Homo sapiens: one gene and its partners. The protein of the gene in region 1 purifies or fractionates together with the protein of each later gene. This does not show direct contact. Each region holds a gene or a part of one and is shown in the gene's direction. Other genes may lie near its edges.

Region 1 (4,798 bases):
AAAGATGCTGGCAGAGACATTCTGACTCATTAAGGGAGAGCTGGCTGATAGCAGAGAGGGGTGACATCAGCCTTGCAGACATTGCCCTGGGGAATTCTGAGCAGTGTTGCTCACAGCACCACCTGGCCAGATGGAGACCACCATGGGGTTCATGGATGACAATGCCACCAACACTTCCACCAGCTTCCTTTCTGTGCTCAACCCTCATGGAGCCCATGCCACTTCCTTCCCATTCAACTTCAGCTACAGCGACTATGATATGCCTTTGGATGAAGATGAGGATGTGACCAATTCCAGGACGTTCTTTGCTGCCAAGATTGTCATTGGGATGGCCCTGGTGGGCATCATGCTGGTCTGCGGCATTGGAAACTTCATCTTTATCGCTGCCCTGGTCCGCTACAAGAAACTGCGCAACCTCACCAACCTGCTCATCGCCAACCTGGCCATCTCTGACTTCCTGGTGGCCATTGTCTGCTGCCCCTTTGAGATGGACTACTATGTGGTGCGCCAGCTCTCCTGGGAGCACGGCCACGTCCTGTGCACCTCTGTCAACTACCTGCGCACTGTCTCTCTCTATGTCTCCACCAATGCCCTGCTGGCCATCGCCATTGACAGGTGAGTGCAGCAGCAGTGGGGACAACAAAGGCGGTCAGGGAGGAAGGGGCATTGGAATTGCCCCCTCCTGTACTGCAGTTGCAGATTGATGAGAGGTGTCTCTATTCCCCCTAGATGTGGTTGCATGGGGGACTCAAAAGCTTGCCCATTGACTGACAGTGAGAAGAGTTCTCCTTTTCCAGCTTTGTTCAGACAGAAGACAGCAGAGCCCTCTAGAGTTGGGTGATGGGAAGCTTTTGATCTCCCTTGCTATGGATGTTTTCCTAGATATTACACCTTTCAAGGTCTAGAGTAGACAGGTAAGAGGAGATATCGAGGGAAACTTTAAGCGTCAGGCAGTTACCTCTTGAGTCAATGTGGAAATCTTGAAGGAGGTTTCTATCTCATCAAGACTTCCTCTACTAAAATATGACCTTCTAGCATCATCTGTTTTTAAATAAGATTCAAGGATTTATGACTGGCTGTGGTAAACAGTTCAAGCCTATAATCCCAGCAATTTGGGAGGCCGAGATAGGAGGAGCATTTGAGGCCAGGAGTTCGAGACCAGCATGGGCAACATATCCAGACCTCACCTTTTGAAAAAATTAAAAAATTAGCTGAGCGTGGTGGTGTGTGCCTGTAGTCCTAGCTAGTTGAGAGGCTGAGGCAGGAGGATCACTTGAGCCCAGGAATTCCAGGCTGCAGTGAGCTATGTTCATGCCACTGTGCTCCAGCCTGGGTGACAGAGGGAGACCTTGTCTCTAAAAAATAAATAAATAAATAAAAATAAAAAGATTGAGGGATTTGTTTTGAAAAAAAAGGGAACATATGTTTATTTACTTTTTGTTGTTGCATTAATCACTTTGCACCTTTTAGTCCATTTGCACAGATAGTGCAGAAGACCTGTTTCTGGTGATCGCAAATAAAATCAGTAAGAGCAGCCTCTGCATATCTTTCTTCAACTTAGTCTCTTCCTTTAGTGTAAACTTGTGCTAATGGGCCAGGCTGGTCTTTGTTCCTCGGGGGACAATCTTTGCTAGCTCCTCTGCCCACAGCTGGACTGTCATTACAAAGCACCTGGTTACAGTCTAGAGACAATTATCCTGAGGATCAAATCAGGCTTCTGTGTACTTGGATCTGAACAGCCTGTCTCTCTCCTTTAACCCAGAGAGCCTGAGGCATACATGCTCTCCCTGTTCTCTGGCCTCAAGGATCTGAGGGGGTTTGACCTGGCCCTCACAGTCAGGACAGTGTTCTAGGGAGGAGCACAGCTAAGAGAGCTTGTTTTCTGAGACCGTAGGCAGGGCGACCAGGGGTGGGATGACCGAAAAGGATAACCTGAAAAAAGGGGGTTACCAAGGAACCTCTGTCTATAAAACCGCTGAGGGGTGGAAACTCTGCCTCCCTTCTCTAGGGAAGGACATCAGGAAGTTAGCAGCTTACATAGCCCTTGGTCTGTCCCCGTAGATCCTTGCAGAGTGCTACTTCTTCTTGGCCAAATTCCCTCCACTGAATCACAGAGCCCTGCAGCTTTTCATTTACCTGGAGGCCAAATTCCCTCCACTGAATCAAAGAGCCCTGCAGCTTTTCATTTACCTGGACAAGGACCCCGCATGAACCCACTGAAGGAGCAGGAGGGGAGCAGTCAAGTAGAGTATCTACTTCGTAGGTTCCTTTCAAAGCTGCCAAGGAAGAGCTCCAGGGACTTTGTCTCTGAACTTTTTTGAAAGTAGAAGCCGCCACCTTCTCTCTTAGCCCATGAACAGGACAAAGCATACAGAGTCATTTCCTGAAGTTTCATACTAGCGAGAAACTACATGTGCTCAGCTACTAAAAGCAGGGTAGGGTGCCTCCTGTGGAGTGGGACCCTACTCCCCGGATGAGATCCATTTTACCACTTGAACGGAGTAACAATGGTAGGAGGAAGTAGCTTCAAGGGGAAAGGAAGCCAGGATACACTAAGGGGCATTGGGTTATTTGGAACATGTAAGAGTGATATCTATGTCAATCAGTCAGTCTCCATCTACTGAACTTCTTCAAGCTTATAACCTCCTTTCATACCAAACAGAGCTTGTCTGAAATACTGCAAGCATTTCTCTTGCAGTGTGAGTTTACACAAAGGAAATTAGATACAATAAGAAAGATGAATTAGAAAAAATGCTTTGCACCGTGGGAGCTTCTATGGTTGAGTGGGGTTATGATAGGAAGCTTGTACCCAGACCTCAAGGAAAGCACCATGTGCCTTCACAGGGCTGCCCAATGGTCTTGGTGGATGAATGGCTGCACCAATGCCCATTCTTTTATTGATGTTTGTGATCTTTGCTGCAATTATTTTTATTTGTATGTGTTGTTACCATCTAATTGTGGTCTAGGAATCATTAATTTTTCTCTGGTCTCACGTGTTGTTCAGGATTTGATCAGTTGGGAGCAACTAATTTTTATCTTGGTTTATAACAGATCTACTTAGTTGTAAAAATGTCTTTATTTTTGCTTAATGAAATTTCTGTAGCCATGTTGGCAGTTATTCTGCCTGGGTTTAAGTACCAGCTGTATTGTGTGTTGGGTATTATGTTAGTTATTTGACCTCTCTCTGCCTCAGTTTTCTCGCCTACAAAATGAGGATAAAAAGAAAGCCTATTGTATTGGGTTGCTTTGAGGATTGAATGAAATAAATATATTTAATTTCTTAGAACAATATTCAAAACAGTAAGCAATAAATAAACAGTGGATATGATAATTCTTAAATTAACCCTTATAGGAATGTCTACAACAAAAAAGCAGGTAAACTAATGAACATTTCTGACACACTAACCTTTTTGCTTTCATTGAAATTATTGTTTTTATGATGTGATTTAAAAAAAATACAAGATTTTTACAAAATGCCAGAACAGAACTATTTATCATCTACCTGCTTGTATTTGTCTATATTATTGGTTCCATTGTTCTCCGAGGCATCTAACCTAGAAGAAAGTCTCCTTTGTCCTGGCTGCTCTCCCTTCTTTACCAGCATTCATTCAACCTCCAGGTCTTGGCAATACCCGTTTGTTCATTCAGGGCTGGTATCCTAGTCTCCTCTTGGTCTTCCTGCCTTCAGTGTTTCTTGGATCTGCCCATCTGTCAACGCTACTCCCCTGACAATCCATCCTAAACTTTCATTCATTCATTCATTTAAACAATCCATTTTTATAGAGTAACTGTGATGTGACAGATGCTATTGCAAGCACTGGAGATACGACAGTGAATAAGACAAAAAAAACTCCTTGCTTTCCTGGAGCTTATAACCAAAGGATGGAGAGAGATCCAGTCAGGCAAACACAAAAGGAAGGTAATTTCAGAAGCAAGAAATACTCTGAACAAAAGAAGTACACAGGTAAAATGTCGAGGGTGGCTGAGGGTGGGACCTATTCTAGGTGAGTAGTCAAGAGAAGGGTCTCCGAGGAGAGGCCTTTGAACTGGCTTCTGAATGACACAGGGGGAAAGAGCCTGCCTTGGGAAGACAGGGAGCAAGCATCCCAGACAAGGGGGATTGTAAGTGAAAAGGCCCAGAGGCAGGAACAAACCAGATGGGTTCTACAAACAGAGGAACAGAGAGAAGCCTCCATGTGGCCCGAGGGAAGTAAGCAAGGCTGCAGCCAAATTAATCTTCTGTCTTGTACGTGTCTCCACTCTCCTGCTTAAAAACAAAAAACCAAACACCGCATATTCTCACTCATAGGTGGGAATTGAACAATGAGATCACATGGACACAGGAAGGGGAATATCACACTCTGGGGACTGTTGTGGGGTGGGGGGAGGGGGGAGGGATAGCATTGGGAGATATACCTAATGCTAGATGACGAGTTAGTGGGTGCAGTGCACCAGCATGGCACATGTATACATATGTAACTAACCTGCACAATGTGCACATGTACCCTAAAACTTAAAGTATAAAAAAAAAAGACCTCTAATAACTCCATTGTCTACAAAGTATGGCTCAAACTCTTTCACCTGTTCTTCCAAACTTTTATTATCTAGCCCCAGACTGCTTCCCAGTCTCATGGTTAAACATATTTATGTCCTGTTTTCCCAAAAATAGTTGCAATCTTTCTGAGAACTGTCCCCATGGCTTTTTATATATTAAAAATAAATTTTTTTAGAGATGAGATCTTGCTATGCTGCCCAGGCTAGTCTTGAACTAGTCTCAAGTAATTATTGTGCCCCGACC
Region 2 (4,798 bases), on another chromosome or scaffold:
CATTCCTTGGGGCTCCCTACCTCAAGCCTATTTGGAGGAGATAGCATCTCCACTTCTTCAGAGGCTAGCCCATAGCCTTGGTTTTACAGAGCAGAGATAGGGAGAGATTTTTTTTTAAGTTTACAAAGTTTTTGTAACCTTATGAAGCACTTGTGATATCTCTGCTTTGCAGTTTGAGGCTTCCTTTGAGATGATCCCTAGAATTCAGGAAATACTCCTTTTTCATTCATGAGAGAGTTCAGCAAACCACTTCTTCCCCCAGGGGTCCCATGCCCTGGGTCCTCAATGTGTGTTCTGGGGTAATAGGTCTGAACTGCTCCCCTCCTCCCTGCCACCAAGTCCTCCTCAAGTGGGTCACAGTGATGGATAGCAGAAGCGCCTCACTTCTTCCTGTGCCTTCAGGTGGTGGTGGTGCTGCAGCAGGTCTTCCAGCTTATCCAGAAGGTGCTGAGCAAATGGTTGAATGATGCCCAGGTTGTGGAGGTGAGCCCTGACCCTTGCCCTCCGCTCCCATAGTGACTGCTCAGAGGTGTAGCAGGGTAAGATGTTACTGCCACACTTCAGCTTACAATGGTTTGGAGAAAACAAGGGAGGTGAATCCTGCCCCATAGAGATAAGGAATCTTTTGGGAAGACATTTAGAACTCCCCAATATCATGAGAAGTGCTTAACGTAAGGACTCTAATATTAGGGTCGAGTGACAGTCAGGCATCTGTTTTAGCACCAAAGACCTGCCTTTGGTCCCTTTTCAATTCAGGTTTTTGTTGCTGTTGCTGCTCCCTGAGAGGAAATGTTAGAGATGTAAGTCGCAGGAGTTAAGTTCCACAGTTACATCCTGTGCCCCTCAGTGAAGGGCCTTTGCCCCCTGCCTTTCAGGGTGAGGGTCAGACTTGCTTACCTTCCTTGGTTTGCAGGGCCAGGCAAGGCTTATAGGTAAGGGCCCAATCGTAGGCCCCCTCTGTGCAGGGCTTCAGCGCTGTTCCAGCCAGTCATGACCTGCTGACCAGGGCCCCTTTGCTTTCTTCCCAAGGCGGTGTGCGCTATCTTTGAGAAGTCTGTTAAGACGCTGCTGGATGACTTTGCCCCCATGGTGCCACAGCTGTGTGAGATGCTGGGTCGGATGTACAGCACCATCCCCCAGGCCTCTGCTCTTGACCTCACTCGACAGGTGGGCCTTCTGGTTGGGGCAGAGATCCTGACCCTGGGTGGGGGTGGGTCAGATGGCTGCCGTGGCTGGGGTCCCCACTTGCATTCCAGGGATATTGCCATGTCCTGGTGAGACTGGGTCTCAGCTGACCAGCATTCCCTGCTTTCTCGTAGCTGGTCCACATCTTTGCTCATGAGCCTGCCCACTTTCCCCCAATTGAGGCCCTCTTCCTGCTCGTCACCTCCGTCACACTCACTCTCTTCCAGCAAGGTAGGTCCTGACCGGGGTCTCTGCTGCTGCTGCCACTGCCACTGCCTCTGCTTCCCCAAATGGGGAGCCAAAGCTGCCCACTCTGTTCTTCTCTGTCCCCTGAGTCACACGTGGGACTTGATGGGAAACCTGTGAGATCAAGCACAACACCTTATAAATAGTTGAAACTTTAGGTTGAAGTGGATAAGAGGGTGAATGATGTCTTCTGCTGGCCTGCTGGGCTCAGGGCCAGTCTGGATATGGAAGAAGGAAGTGGGGGTGGGAGGTGGGCAGAGGCTCTGAGGGGCTTGGGGCACTAGGCTGGCTCCTTTACTTTGGGATATAATGAAAAGTGGAAAGAGCACGGGCTTTTGAAGTCAGCTAGACCTAGATTCTAAGTTCATCACCACCAACTAGTTGTGTGTCCTTGGGCAAGTCACTTACCTTTGCTGGGCCTTCATTTCCATATCTGTGAAACGGAGATAACATATACTTGAAATGATTGTTTACAGGTATTAAAGTCACATCTTCTGGGCCCTTGGCTCAGGGGCTTTTGCACAGTGAAGTACTCAGAGACTGTTGGTTCCTTTCCCTGCATCAAGGCTTAGTACTTTCTAGGCCAGAAGTCAAGTACCTTTGGCTGTGGTCCTAGCCCTCTACTCACTGTGGCCCTTTGCCTGAGAGAGTTGGCAGCAGGGGCTTCATTCAGGCTTCTCGTGTTGTCTAATCCAGGCTTCCAGTTTGGAGAAACAAAAACAAAAAAACAGCACTGCTCAGCTAGCCTCATGAGCCTTGCCTGGATTCATGGTCACAGGTTTGAGGCTCACCAGGGGTCTCGGTTGGTGCCCAGAGTACTCGCAGCTCATATCCTCAGTGCCTGGTCTCATGATCCTGGCCTCTGTTTCTGTGGGCCATGGAGTAGGTCCAAACTGGGGAGAAAACTGAACCAGAAACCTGGTGTGGTCATCCTCAACTCCACCTCTCCCAACTCCCTGTACCCAATCTGGGACAAGCCCCATTGATCCTGACTCCTGATTCTCTCTCGGTTGGTCCACTTCTACCCACCTCCGTGGCCACTGCCTCAGTTTAGGGTCTCACCTGGATTATCAGCAACCTTCTAGTGGGTTTTCTTGGCATCTCCCCTTCTCTCCAATCTGTTCTGCACACTGCAGCTATAATCTTCATAAAAACACAAATCTGAGCATTTGTCATCCCGGGCTTAAAACCCTTTCATTGTTCCCATTGCCCTCAGCTTATTGTTCCATTCCCACCCACATGACAAGGCTCTGGCATGCCTCTAATGTCCTCTCCTGCCAATGTCCTCATGACTCCAACATTTCAGCCACACTGCCTCTTCCTTACCGTGTCCCATTTGATCCCTGTGCCTTGCTCCTCTGACTGGAATGTCCTATGCCCTTTACTGGGTGAACTCTCACTCCTTCATGCCTTAGAAAGGAGGAAGACTGCATCACTTCTCAGAGTAATTTCTCTCTGAGGCAGAATTGGGTGCTTCTAACTGTACTGAAACTGCATCCCATACACACTGCTGACACAGCACTGATCACACACAATAATCAGCTTTCATGTCTGTCTCTCTTACTAGACTTAAGCCCCTCAAGGGTAGGGTTGAGTTTCTTCTCTCTGCATCCCCAGTGCCCAGAATGAGGCCAGAATACAGCAGGCCACAGACACTGTTAAATAAAGGAGGGGGAGGGCTCCCTGCCCTTGGAACCTTTCCTTCTCATTTTCTGGCCCACCTCTAGCAGGGTGGCTGCTGAATATCAAACCTGCATGGTGCACACTGGGCCTCACTTTCTAGGACTTAAATAACTCAGGGTTCAGATACCAAAGGGACAGACTTTATTGGTGACTCTTCATAGCCTAGAGAAGGAAGCAGGGCAGAGATTATCTGCTTTACAGATGGGGAAACTGAGCATTTGTGGCTTGCGCAAGATCACACAGCTACTTAGTGGTGTCTTAGGCAGATGGTTTTGTACCACATCCTCCTGAGAGTGGAGAAGCCTGGGTAGGAGCTCCAGGTGCATGCCATATTCTTGCCTCAGGAATGATCAGAACTGGAGGCAGCAGTGTCCAACATCATATACGTTGGGCTTGTTGGTTGTCTCGCTGGACAGGATGGCTCCCATACCTGTTATGCCATCCCAATCTTAGCCATTCCTTCCTCGGGCTCTGCCTTCCCACTGGACCATAGGATGACATGTTTCTTGTTTCCCTGTTTCTTGGCATGTCCAGATGATGGGAACTAGTCCTCAGCCCTGAGCTTGGCTCTCTGCAGAGTCCATGTCCATGTGGAGGAGGTTTGCTGGGGTGGGGCTCTTGTTTTTGGCCTTATGATACTGTTTCCTCCTCTGGGCCCTGCCAGTGACTTGCCAGGCCATCTCCAGAGCATGCTGGGCACTGCCCTACCTAAGCAAGAGTCCTGTGGTTTAAGTGGACTGAATAGATTATTTTCCTTTGCCAGACCAAGAGCCCTAAGGCCATTGAAGTGAGGTGGCACTTACTCAGGCTCTGATGCCCTGGCCTTTCTAGGGCCCTCAGATAAACCTCAAAAGGAGATACCAAGGACTGACTCCCCCACCCCCCCACCGCCATCCCAGCTTTCCTCTTCAATGACTGGCTGATGGGAGGTATGTGCTAGGAGCAGTGTAGGGCTACCCCAACCTGCCAGAGGCCACAGTAAGTGTGGTGGCCGTTTCTTCAGCTATATGGAGTCCAGAATTGCTCAAGTACCAAGGGAACATGAGGGGATGGCCTGAGGAGGAGTGGGGAGTAGGCGGAAGGCCCCTTGGAGGGAGCTGGGGCAGGCCCGTCCTTCACTTTGCCGTCTCTTTCTGTTGGGCTTCTCCCAGTTCATGGTTTTTGTATGTTTTGTTTCTTTATCTTGCTTCCTGCTGCTCATGTGCCCCCACGCTGTCTCCCTGCAGGCTCTCAGTCCCACATAACTATATGAGGTTGAGTTGCTGTTTGTATAATTTTTTCTTAAGTTCCATCTTTATTATATTTTAGGGCCCAGGGATCATCCTGATATTGTTGATTCATTTATGCAACTCCTGGCACAGGTGTGTTTTAGTTTTATTCATTCACGTTCTGTTCTCTCTCTTTCTCTTTCTCTTATGTTGAAATTCAATTTAAGCCTATTTTTAGCTTTCTGTTGACAAATTTTTTTTCTGTTCAGTTGAATAGAGTTTCTTCATCTGTTTCCGTGGAAGTTGACAACCCAACATCCTCCTTTAGTGCCCCTATGCCTCACTAGCTCAGTCTTCTACAAAGACCAGGGAGAGGCTGATCCCAAACGGAGGGAGCTGGGCTGGCATCGGGTGGGGAATGGGAAAGGGAGGGGGTGGTGACTGCGCCCAGCAGCTTCTTGTTGCCCAAGAAGTTC
Region 3 (4,798 bases), on another chromosome or scaffold:
CACATCACCCGGCTGTTAAATGGCAGGGCCCTGCCTCGCACCAGAACTTCAGCTTGTCAGCCCAGCTTCAACCTCTGGGTGCTCATGGAGCCCCTTGGCTGCTTCTCTGCACCTATGGGAAGCCACCACGGTCGGCACAGTTGGGGGGCAGATGCCCCAGTTTCACTTCCCTGTGTCCAGGCCGTCGTGAAGTCTGTGGCTTCCTAGGCCTCCCTGTCCCCTGGACGCTGCTGCTCGGGTGCCTGTCCTCAGCCCTCTTCAAACGATGCCCAGGATCCGTGCTCTGCCAGCACATCCCTGCACACACCACCGCCCCGCCTCCGGGGCTTTGTTGGTGTTTACTGGGATTGTCTCCTTTCTAGTGTTTGGGGACAAAGAGGATGCAGCCTCCCAGAGGATATGCAGCAGAGCCTCATTCTGGAAGTCAGAGTCCCCTGTAACGGCCCTTCCCGTTTCCAGGCTCCCCCCTCCCACTCACTCTCCTGCTGCTGCGCACTCTCCCTGAGCAACCGCCGCACCCCGGGCATACGTTGGGTGGTCCCCTCCCTCTGCCGTCTGCCCTGCTGGTGAGCACAGCTGTGCTTCAGGGCGACCGCAGATGCCCCGCTTATTGGCCTCTGTCCTGTGGTATCTGTCACCAGCTGCCCTGGGAGGTCGTCGTTCTTGTCTTGCTCACGTTTGCATCTCTGCCAGCCTAGGGTGGTGCTTGCTTAACTGATGGGATGTTCCGCTCGCACCAGGAGCGACCCTAGAATGGTGGATTGGGGCGTTTTCCATCCTGATGTTGGAGTTGCTGCTGTGGATTCAAGTATGTTTTGCTTGGAGATGGGCTGGAGGCCCTGGCAGTGCTAAGTTCTGAGTTGCATTTTGATGCTTCTGTCGCTGAAGCCCAGGAGGCCTCTTCTCTGGTCCTTCTGGTTGAATGAAACACGGTGTTGCCCACTTAAGCGGGAAGTGCAGGTGAGGAGCTGCTTGGGAGGCTGGCCTCTGGCTCCCTGGCCCCTGAGGGAACCTGACTCTTACAGTCTTTCCAACCCCGCACTGGGGCCAGCACACAGTGTCCCAGGTCCTGAGCAATGTGCTAAGGCCCCTGTCTGAGGAGGTGATGATTTCCCAGGGCTGGGCAGAGACTCTGGGAGCTGGCCAGCCTGCTACAACCACTGAGCTCCCCAGGGCAGGGACCAAGCCCCATCCAGTGCCCCCTCTAGCAGGTTCCCCCTACCTGGTGCTTTCCTAGGCTGAGGACCCAGCGCTGGGCTCGCACCTAGAACAGAGCCCCTCCCACCTGCAGGGAATAGTGAGGCATCCCGCAGGAGCTTTGTTTCAATACATGTCCGTGCTCAGGGCTCTGGAGTGGTGTCATCATTAAGGACACGTGCCCGTCTTGTTTTCCCTCAGTGTGTATGTTGGGCTTGTGGACGGGGCAGGTACAGAGCATGCAGCTGCCCTAGCTTTTTCTTAGGGACCCATCTCCCTCCGGGCTTCCTCAGGCTTCCCAGGGGCTCGGCATCGAGCTAGCAGGAGCCGAGATAGTGGCCTCCAGGCCCTCGTGTCCACCCATCAAATGGGACCCATAGGGCCAGCTGCTGTCCCCCCAGAGCTGGAACCGTTGTGGGCAGGGGCAGCCCCTCCAGGCCCGAGCTCCTCTCTTGCTTGTGTTGCAGGGACATTCTGTCACGTTACCTCAAACCTTGCCCACCAACTGTGGTTTGTCCCAGAGTCAAGTTAAGGACGGAGGTTGTTGGCTTGCAGAAGAGAAGTGGGCTGAGGGGTTTATCAGGGAAACTTGGGGGCTTCTCCCAGAGCAAAAACAGGGTCCAGCCTAGGCTGGCTCAGAAGAGATTGACCCAGATGCTGCCTCAACAGGCCGGGCAGAGGCAAGCATAGGCTAGGGGCCAGGACTTCCCCCACCTGCGTGGGGACCTCGTCCGAGCTGTGGACAGTGTTTCACATGTGGTCATGTGTCTGACGCCGCCGTGCTGGTGCCTGGGGGACCTGCAATTCATGCCCAGCTCCCCATCGACCCCTGGCCTACCTGCCTCTTGGGACCTTTCAGGGCTCACCCCCAAAGGCACTGTGGGAGAGGACCCCCTGGCAGGTAGGGCCCGCCTGGCCAAAGTGGGTGGCAGCTGCTCTGGCCACCAGAGAGCCCACCCCCAACTCTAGCAGGGATTACCCAGGGCTGAGAGTGACAGGAGTTAGAGCTGCTGGCCCCAGGGACAAGGGCTAATCCCTTGCCTCCCCCCTCTTCCGGGCCGCCTCATTCTAGATCAGTGGAGCCATTTCCCTAGCAACAGAGCAGGAGATTCAGAATGGAAACATGACTTCCTGGGGTGGGCGGGGCTTCATGGCAGGCACCCTGGACAGAAGCCACAGCCCCTGCTCAGCTGTCATTGGTCCCCTAGGCAGGCTCAAGGGTTGACCTTCCTTTTCAAACAGGGTAAGAGAGCTGAGGGGCCTTCCGTGGGGATAGGAAGCCTGTCACCCAAAGTCAGTTGGGTGCAGAGCCTTGTCCGGCTCAGGGGTGGGGGGTCACACAAGCAGGTCTTCACCCATCAGGACACGCCCCCATGCACAGTTACAAAGAAGCCTGTACAACAGCTAGTAATTAGCACAGGGAAGTCCACGTGCTTAGTTGCCCGGGAGTGCTAGATGCGGGCACCGCAGCAGAGCAGGTCTCCACATGCCCCAGAGCGAGTCTCCTTCCCTGGCTGTTCATGTAGTCGGCGCCCGGTGGCGCTGTCCTAATGCCGAGCACTGAGCGCCTCCCTGCATTCTCCTGTAGGATCCTCACAGTGGCCTCTCCTGGGGCAGGGATGCTCAGCAGCCCCTTTTGACAGGTGAGGGATGAGACTGCGGCCCTAGAAGGCAGAGCTGCTCTCCAAGGCCATGCCTGTTGCCATACTGCCTGCCCAGCTGGCTGGCTCCGTTTCGTCGCTGGTCTGCAGGCCTTGCCCGCTGTCTCCATGCTGTTGACAAGATGCAGCGGTCCTTGTCCTCTGTGAGGGCTTGGGCCTGTGCTGGGGCAGGGGGTGTGGGGTGAGAAGGGTGTGGGCCGAGGCTGCTGGGGGAGATCCCAGCTGCCCCTGTGGGCCCTGGGCCTTCCCCGCAGGGCCTGGTCCCATCTCCCCTTCTCTCCCAAGCCTCCCCCCACTCCATGTAACTTGGCTTTTTTGCGTACATACTCTAGGCCAGTCACTGTTAAGTGCGTCCCACGAGCAGTCCCTTGTGAGGGAGGTGCTTTTGTCCCCAGCTGACAGGTGATCACACATCTCCCTTCATATGCCCCTGGTCAGGAGAAGGGGGTGGAGGGGAGGGCCGGGCAGCAGCAGTAGTGTCAGAAGCGGGAGCCCTGCTTCCCAGGGCCCAGCCTCCCCCTCAGGCCCCTGGCCAGCCCGATGGGTTAGCGACAGAGCTGGCTCTTTGCAGAGCACAGCACCTTTCTGTCTTGTGTCACTGCGTCCTTGCAGCATGCAGAAGCCGGGGGTGCTGTGGTTGCCCCCACTTCACAGATGTGGACACTGAGGCTGAGAGTACAGGAACTTCCTGGGGCTCCGTCCTCCTTTCTCTGAGCAGCGCCTCAGGATGAAAGGCCAGAGGGCCGTGCTCTCTGGTCCTGTGGACGGGGGGCCGTCTGTGCAGGGAGTGGCTGCCCACTCTGGCAGGGGCTCAAGCGGTGTCCTCGAGCTGGAGGTGGCCCCTGGGGGAGAGGTGGAGAGTCGGAGCAGCAAAGCCGGGGCCCCAGGGCTCCCACAGCTGCTGCCTGTCACCCACATTGTTCCTGGATTTCCGGAACTGGGGGGCTTTTTTGGGCAGTGGCGGTCTCTCTGCCCACCCCTCCCCAGTCCCCCAGTGTCCCACAACCAATGAGGTGGGTAGAGGGGGGCCCAGAGCATAGATCCCCCAGTGTCTGGGCTGGGATTATCCCGAGGCCCCACCTGTCACCACACGTGTAGCCAGCGAGGGCCACTGTCCTCTCCACCAGAGAGGGTTGGCCCCAGGCTGGGCAGCTGTCACTTGCTCCCTCCCCTCAGCCTCCTTGGCTCTCACATCCTGGGACTGTCTCTCTCTGGAGCACAGGAGGCCCCTTTCAATCTGGAGGCTCCCTGGGGCGCACCCTTTCTGCAGCCCAGGATCAAGGACCTCGTGGGGGAGGGGTGGTCCTCGAACCTGGTCCCAGTCAGCCCTGGTTTGGCCAGCCCTGGCCCCTGTTGTGCTCCATGTGTGAGCCCCAGGCCACCAGGAGCAGGTGGCCCTGGGTCCCCGTGCGGCCGCACTGGAGCCTAGGGATCTGCTGAGGCTCCAGCTGGCCTCCTCCCCTTGAAGACTGAGAAGCCCAGGTTGGCCGTGGCCTCCCTGTCTGGTCCTGGGTGGATGCAGCCGTACCTAGTCTGCGTTCCTCTCCTTCAGAGCCCTTGTTCCTCCTGCTGTTCTGGGGCCAGCATCTCCAGCTTTGCATCCCCAGATCCCAGATCCCACTCCCAGCACCCTTTCCCTGGTGGCCCTGGGGCAGGGCATGGAGGTCCCTCTCCAGCAGGTGCTGGGGTCTTCCAGGCCAACCCGCTCTTTCCTTGGTCCACAGGATGAAGCCAACGCACACGATGGTCAACTGCTGGTTCTGCAACCAGGATACGCTGGTGCCCTATGGGAACCGCAACTGCTGGGACTGTCCCCACTGCGAGCAGTACAACGGCTTCCAGGAGGTGTGGGTCACAGGCAGGCGGACGGGTGGGCACGCGGGGGTGGGGATCTTGAGATTTGCACCTTGAGACCACCCTGTGTCCCTGCCCTGCCCCGG
Region 4 (4,798 bases), on another chromosome or scaffold:
CTCAGGAGATCCACCGCCTTGGCCTCCCAAAGTGCTGGGATTACAGGCATGAGCCACCTTGCCTGGCTGGGAACATGGATCTTAAGGAAAGAAGGAAGATCATCAGGAATAGAAATATGAATGCACATATAAAGAATGATTATTTCCTCTTAATTTCTTGAAAATATTCACTATCAAGTAATATAACACTTTGTAGGGTTTGTAACATATGAACATGCCTGAGACAACTATAGCAGAAAGAATGAGTAGTGGAGATGAATCAATCTGTATTATTTCAAGTCTCCTACATTTTATAATATTACCATATTAATTCTGCCATACAACTCAGTAATGAAAAGGAATGGAGTACTGATGCATATGAAAATATGACCGAATTTCAAAATAATTATGCTGAGTTAAAGAAACCAGACAGAAAAGCATATATAGTATCTGATTCCATCTATGATATTTATAGCCAGAAATGGTTTAATTAAAAAAGAAGAAGGATCTTAAATCAACGAGCTAAGTTTACAAATGTAGGAATTAGAAAAAGAATGAACCAAACCTAGAGTTAGCATTATAAAGGAAATAATTATTAGAAGAGAAATAAATAAAACAGAGAATAGAAAAACAGTAGAGGCCGGATGTGATGGCTCACGCCTATAATCCCAGCACTTTGCGAGGCCAAGACAGGAGGATTGCTTGAAGCCAGGAGTTTGAGACCAGCCTGGATATGGCAAAACCCTGTCTCTACAAAAAATATAAAAAGCAGCCTGGCCCGGGGGAGCACACCTGTGATCCCAGTTACTCGGGAGGCTGAGGTGGGAGGATCACTTGAGCCCCGGAGATGTAGGTTGCAGTGAGCCAAGATCACATCACTGCACTCCAGCCTGGGCAACAGAGTGAGACTCTGTCTCAAAGAAAGAAAGAAAAAGAAAAAAGAAAAACCATAGAGAAAATCCACAAAACCAACATTGATTCTTCAATACTATTAATTAAACTGACAGAATTCACTAGTGAATTCTAACAAGCTTTTAATGAAGAGCTAATACCACTACTTCTCAAACTCTTTCAAAAACTTGAAGAGAAGGGAACCTTTCTTGACTCTTTCTGTAAGGCCAGCATTGCTCTGATACCCAAGCAGATAAAGATATTACAAGAAAATAAAGCTATATCCCAGTATCCCTAACTGATGCAAAAATCTTCAACAAAATACTATCAGAGAGAATTCAACAGTACCTTAGATGGATTATACACCATGACCAAGTTGGATTTATTTCCGGAATGCAAGAATGTTTGAACAAATGAAAACTGAACAATGTAATACATTGCATTAATAGAATGAAGGGGGAAAAAGACACATGATCATCTGAGTTGATACAGGGAAAGCCTCTGATAAAATTCAAAGCCCTTTCATGATGAAAACACCCAGCAAACTAAGAATAGAAGAAAACTTCCACAACATCATAAAAGCCATGTAAGAAAACCCCACAGCTAACATCATACTCAGTGTTGAAAGACGGAAAGCTTTTCCTTTAAGATTAAGAACAACATAAGGATATCTACCCACCTTTGCCACTCAGCATAGTACTGGAAGTTCTAGCCAAAACAGGCAAGAAAAAGAAATAAGAGCATCTGGACTGTAAAGGAAAAAGTAAAATAATCTGTGTTTTCAGATGATATGATCTTACTGGTAAAAAATCCAAAAGATTTCACAAAAAATTAAACTGCCAAAAATAAAATAATATTAAATTTTTAAAATTTTGAAATTTATTGTTGTTCAGTAAAAGACAGTACAGATTGCAATCTGGGAGATTTCAAACCAAGTGGTAAGAAACTTGCCTTACAGCAGGTATAGTACAGGCTATAAAGGAGGATGTATTTTGACAATTTCATGATTGACTTATAAATTTATATTCTTTTTAAAGGCAATCAGAGCTGTTTAAGCTGATTTTTCTATAGCTGCTTGATTTAACTTCACTGAACCATATTATGTCATGATGAAGGTGTAAAACTTATATTTTGTGGGATTTTTTATGATTATAGCTAATGTTTCAGGGATATCAGGATGTCTTAAGTTTTGGCTACATGGTTATGGGTAATTGCCGTGGGGTATATCTAAACTGTGTTTTTAATTTTTATTTAGTAGTACTAAAATGAATTCATCAAAGAAGCGGAATACAAAATCAACTGGAAAAGTCAATTGCATTTCTATACACTACCAATGAACAATTCAAAAAAAGAAATTAGGAAAAAATCCATTTACAATAGTATCAAAAATAATAAAATAGGAGTAAACTCACCAAGGAGGTGGAAGACTAGTACAATGAAAACTATAAAACATTACTGAAAGTAATTAAAGAATACAAAAATAAATGGAAAGATATGCCATGATTATGAATTATAAGACTAATTATGTCAACATTTCCTAAAGTGATCTATACATTCAATGTAATCTCTATCAAAATCCCAAGGACATTTTTGCAGAAATGAAAAAATGTATCCTAAAATTCATATGGAATTTCTAGGGACCAGAATATCCAAAACAATCTTGAAAATGAATAAAAATGTAGTAGGATTCACACTTCCTGATTTTCAAAACTTCCTACAAAGCTGCAGTAATCAAAACAGGATGGTACTGACATAAAAGCAGATAAATCGATCAGTGGAATAGAATAGAGGAGCCAGAAATAAACACTCACATATATGGCCAAATTATTTTTCACAAGGATGCCAAGACTGTTGAATGGAGGAAAGGGCCGTCTTTTCAATGAAGGGGGCTAGGAGAACCGGATATCCACATTCAAAAGAATGAAGTGAACCTTAGCCTAACATTGTATTTAAAAAATAGCTAAAAACAAATAAAAGATGTAAATGTAAGTGCTAAAGCTATAGAACTCTTGAAAGAAAATATAGGATAAAAATTCTGTGACATTGGATTTGGCAATAATTTCTTGGATGTGACACCATGGACATAGGCAACAAAAGAAAAAATAAACATTTTGGACTTCTTGAAAATCAGTAACTCTTGTGAATCAAAAGATACTATTAACTGGATAAAAAGGCAAAACCCACAGAATGAGAGAAAATATTTTAAGTTATATATCTGATAAGGGCTTAATATCTAAAATATATAAAGAATTCCTACGATCTAACAAAACAAAAACAACCCAGTTAAAAATGGGCAACTGATTTTTATAAACATTTCTCCAAAGCAAATATACAAATGGTCAATAAGTATATGAAAAGATACTTTAATCACTAATCATTAGGGAACTGCTGGTCAAAACGACAGAGATACCATCCTATACCCATCAGGATGACTATTATAAAAAACACACACAGGCCGGGTGCGGTGGCTCATGCCTGTAATCCCCACACTTTGGGAGGCCAAGGCAGGCGGATCACGAGGTCAGGAGATTGAGACCATCCTGGCTAACATGGTGAGACCCCGTCTCCACTAAAAAAAAAATACAAAAAAATTAGCCCGGCGTGGTGGCAGGCGCCTGTAGTCCCAGCTACTTGGGAGGATGAGGCAGGAGAATGGCGTGAACCCAGGAGGCGGAGCTTGCAGTGAGCTGAGATGGCACCACTGCACTCCAGCCTGGGCGACAGAACGAGACTCTGTCTCAAAAAACAAAAACAACACACACACACAATAAGCATTAGCAAATTTGTAGAGAAGTTGGAACCCTCGTGCCCTGTTAATGGGAATGTAAAATGGTGCAGCCACTATGGAAAACAGTATGATAGTTCCTCAAAAGTAAAAACAGGATTAGCAGATGATCCATCATTCCCACTTCTAGGTATACGTCCAAAAGAATTGAAAGCATGGTTTCAAACAGATATTTGTACACCCACGTTTATAGCAGTATTATTCACAATAGCCAAAAAGTGGAAGAAACTCAAGTTGGACAGATCAATAGATAATGTGGTATATTCATACAATGGAGTATTACTCAGCCTTGAAAAGGAAGGAAATACTGGCACATGCTACACAATGGATGAACATTAAAGACATGCTCAGTAAAATGCCATTCATAAAAGGACAAATGAAATAGGATTCCACTTGAGGTACCTAATGTAGTCAAATTCATAAAAACCAACAGTAGAATGTTGGATGCCAGCGGTTGTAAGGAGGGAAGAATGGGAAGATGAAATAACTTCTGAGGATGGATAGTTGTGATTATTGCACAACAACATTAATAAATGTAGTGTCACTGAACTATGTATTTTAAAAGATTAAAAGATAAGTTTCATGTTATATATAATTTACCTTAGTTTTAGATTTAAAAAAACAGCATTTATTTTAGTCACTATAACAATTACACATAAAATGGAAATATTGTTGATTTAAAAAGCCAATGCACAAGCTGGGCACGGCGGCTCACACCTGTAATCCCAGCACTTTGGGAGGGTGAAGCGAGCAGATCACCTGAGATTGGGAGTTCAAGATCACCCTAACCAACACGGAGAAACCCCATCTCTACTAATAATACAAAATTAGCTGGGCATTGTGATGCATGCCTGTAGTCCCAGCTACTCGGGAAGCTGAGGCAGGAGAATCGCTTGAACCTGGGAGGCAGAGGTTGTGGTGAGCCGAGATTGTGCCATGGCACTCCAGCCTGGGCAACAAGAGTGAAAATCCATCTGAAAAAAAAAAAGCCAATACACAATTAAAATGGGATTCTAAAACATACTCAATTAACATTAAATATACAGGTAAGAAGGAACAGGTAAAAAATAGAATGGACAAAAATTGGTAAAATTATAGAACTATTTTGGCTATAGTAATAATTACACTAACTGTAAATCCACC

Evidence for each region. The genes of interacting proteins can lie anywhere in the genome.
Region 2: the proteins of PROKR1 (region 1) and IPO13 purify together in Homo sapiens (affinity purification with mass spectrometry; one large-scale study listed by BioGRID and IntAct). This does not show direct contact.
Region 3: the proteins of PROKR1 (region 1) and TMEM201 purify together in Homo sapiens (affinity purification with mass spectrometry; one large-scale study listed by BioGRID and IntAct). This does not show direct contact.
Region 4: the proteins of PROKR1 (region 1) and TNFRSF10B purify together in Homo sapiens (affinity purification with mass spectrometry; one large-scale study listed by BioGRID and IntAct). This does not show direct contact.

Annotation. Positions count from the first base shown.
Region 1 is NC_000002.12:68,645,692-68,650,489, forward strand, and holds part of PROKR1 (prokineticin receptor 1), read left to right. Parts: 5' UTR 1-130; coding exon 131-615; intron 616-4,798. UniProt on the Homo sapiens protein: Receptor for prokineticin 1. Exclusively coupled to the G(q) subclass of heteromeric G proteins. Activation leads to mobilization of calcium, stimulation of phosphoinositide turnover and activation of p44/p42 mitogen-activated protein kinase.
Region 2 is NC_000001.11:43,959,847-43,964,644, forward strand, and holds part of IPO13 (importin-13), read left to right. Parts: intron 1-402; coding exon 403-483; intron 484-1,029; coding exon 1,030-1,167; intron 1,168-1,319; coding exon 1,320-1,416; intron 1,417-4,422; coding exon 4,423-4,475; intron 4,476-4,798. UniProt on the Homo sapiens protein: Functions in nuclear protein import as nuclear transport receptor. Serves as receptor for nuclear localization signals (NLS) in cargo substrates.
Region 3 is NC_000001.11:9,591,308-9,596,105, forward strand, and holds part of TMEM201 (transmembrane protein 201), read left to right. Parts: intron 1-4,582; coding exon 4,583-4,703; intron 4,704-4,798. UniProt on the Homo sapiens protein: Critical regulator of angiogenesis and endothelial cell (EC) migration. Promotes the migration of endothelial cells, which is essential for angiogenesis.
Region 4 is NC_000008.11:23,058,337-23,063,134, reverse strand, and holds part of TNFRSF10B (tumor necrosis factor receptor superfamily member 10B isoform 1 precursor), read left to right. Parts: intron 1-4,798. UniProt on the Homo sapiens protein: Receptor for the cytotoxic ligand TNFSF10/TRAIL. The adapter molecule FADD recruits caspase-8 to the activated receptor.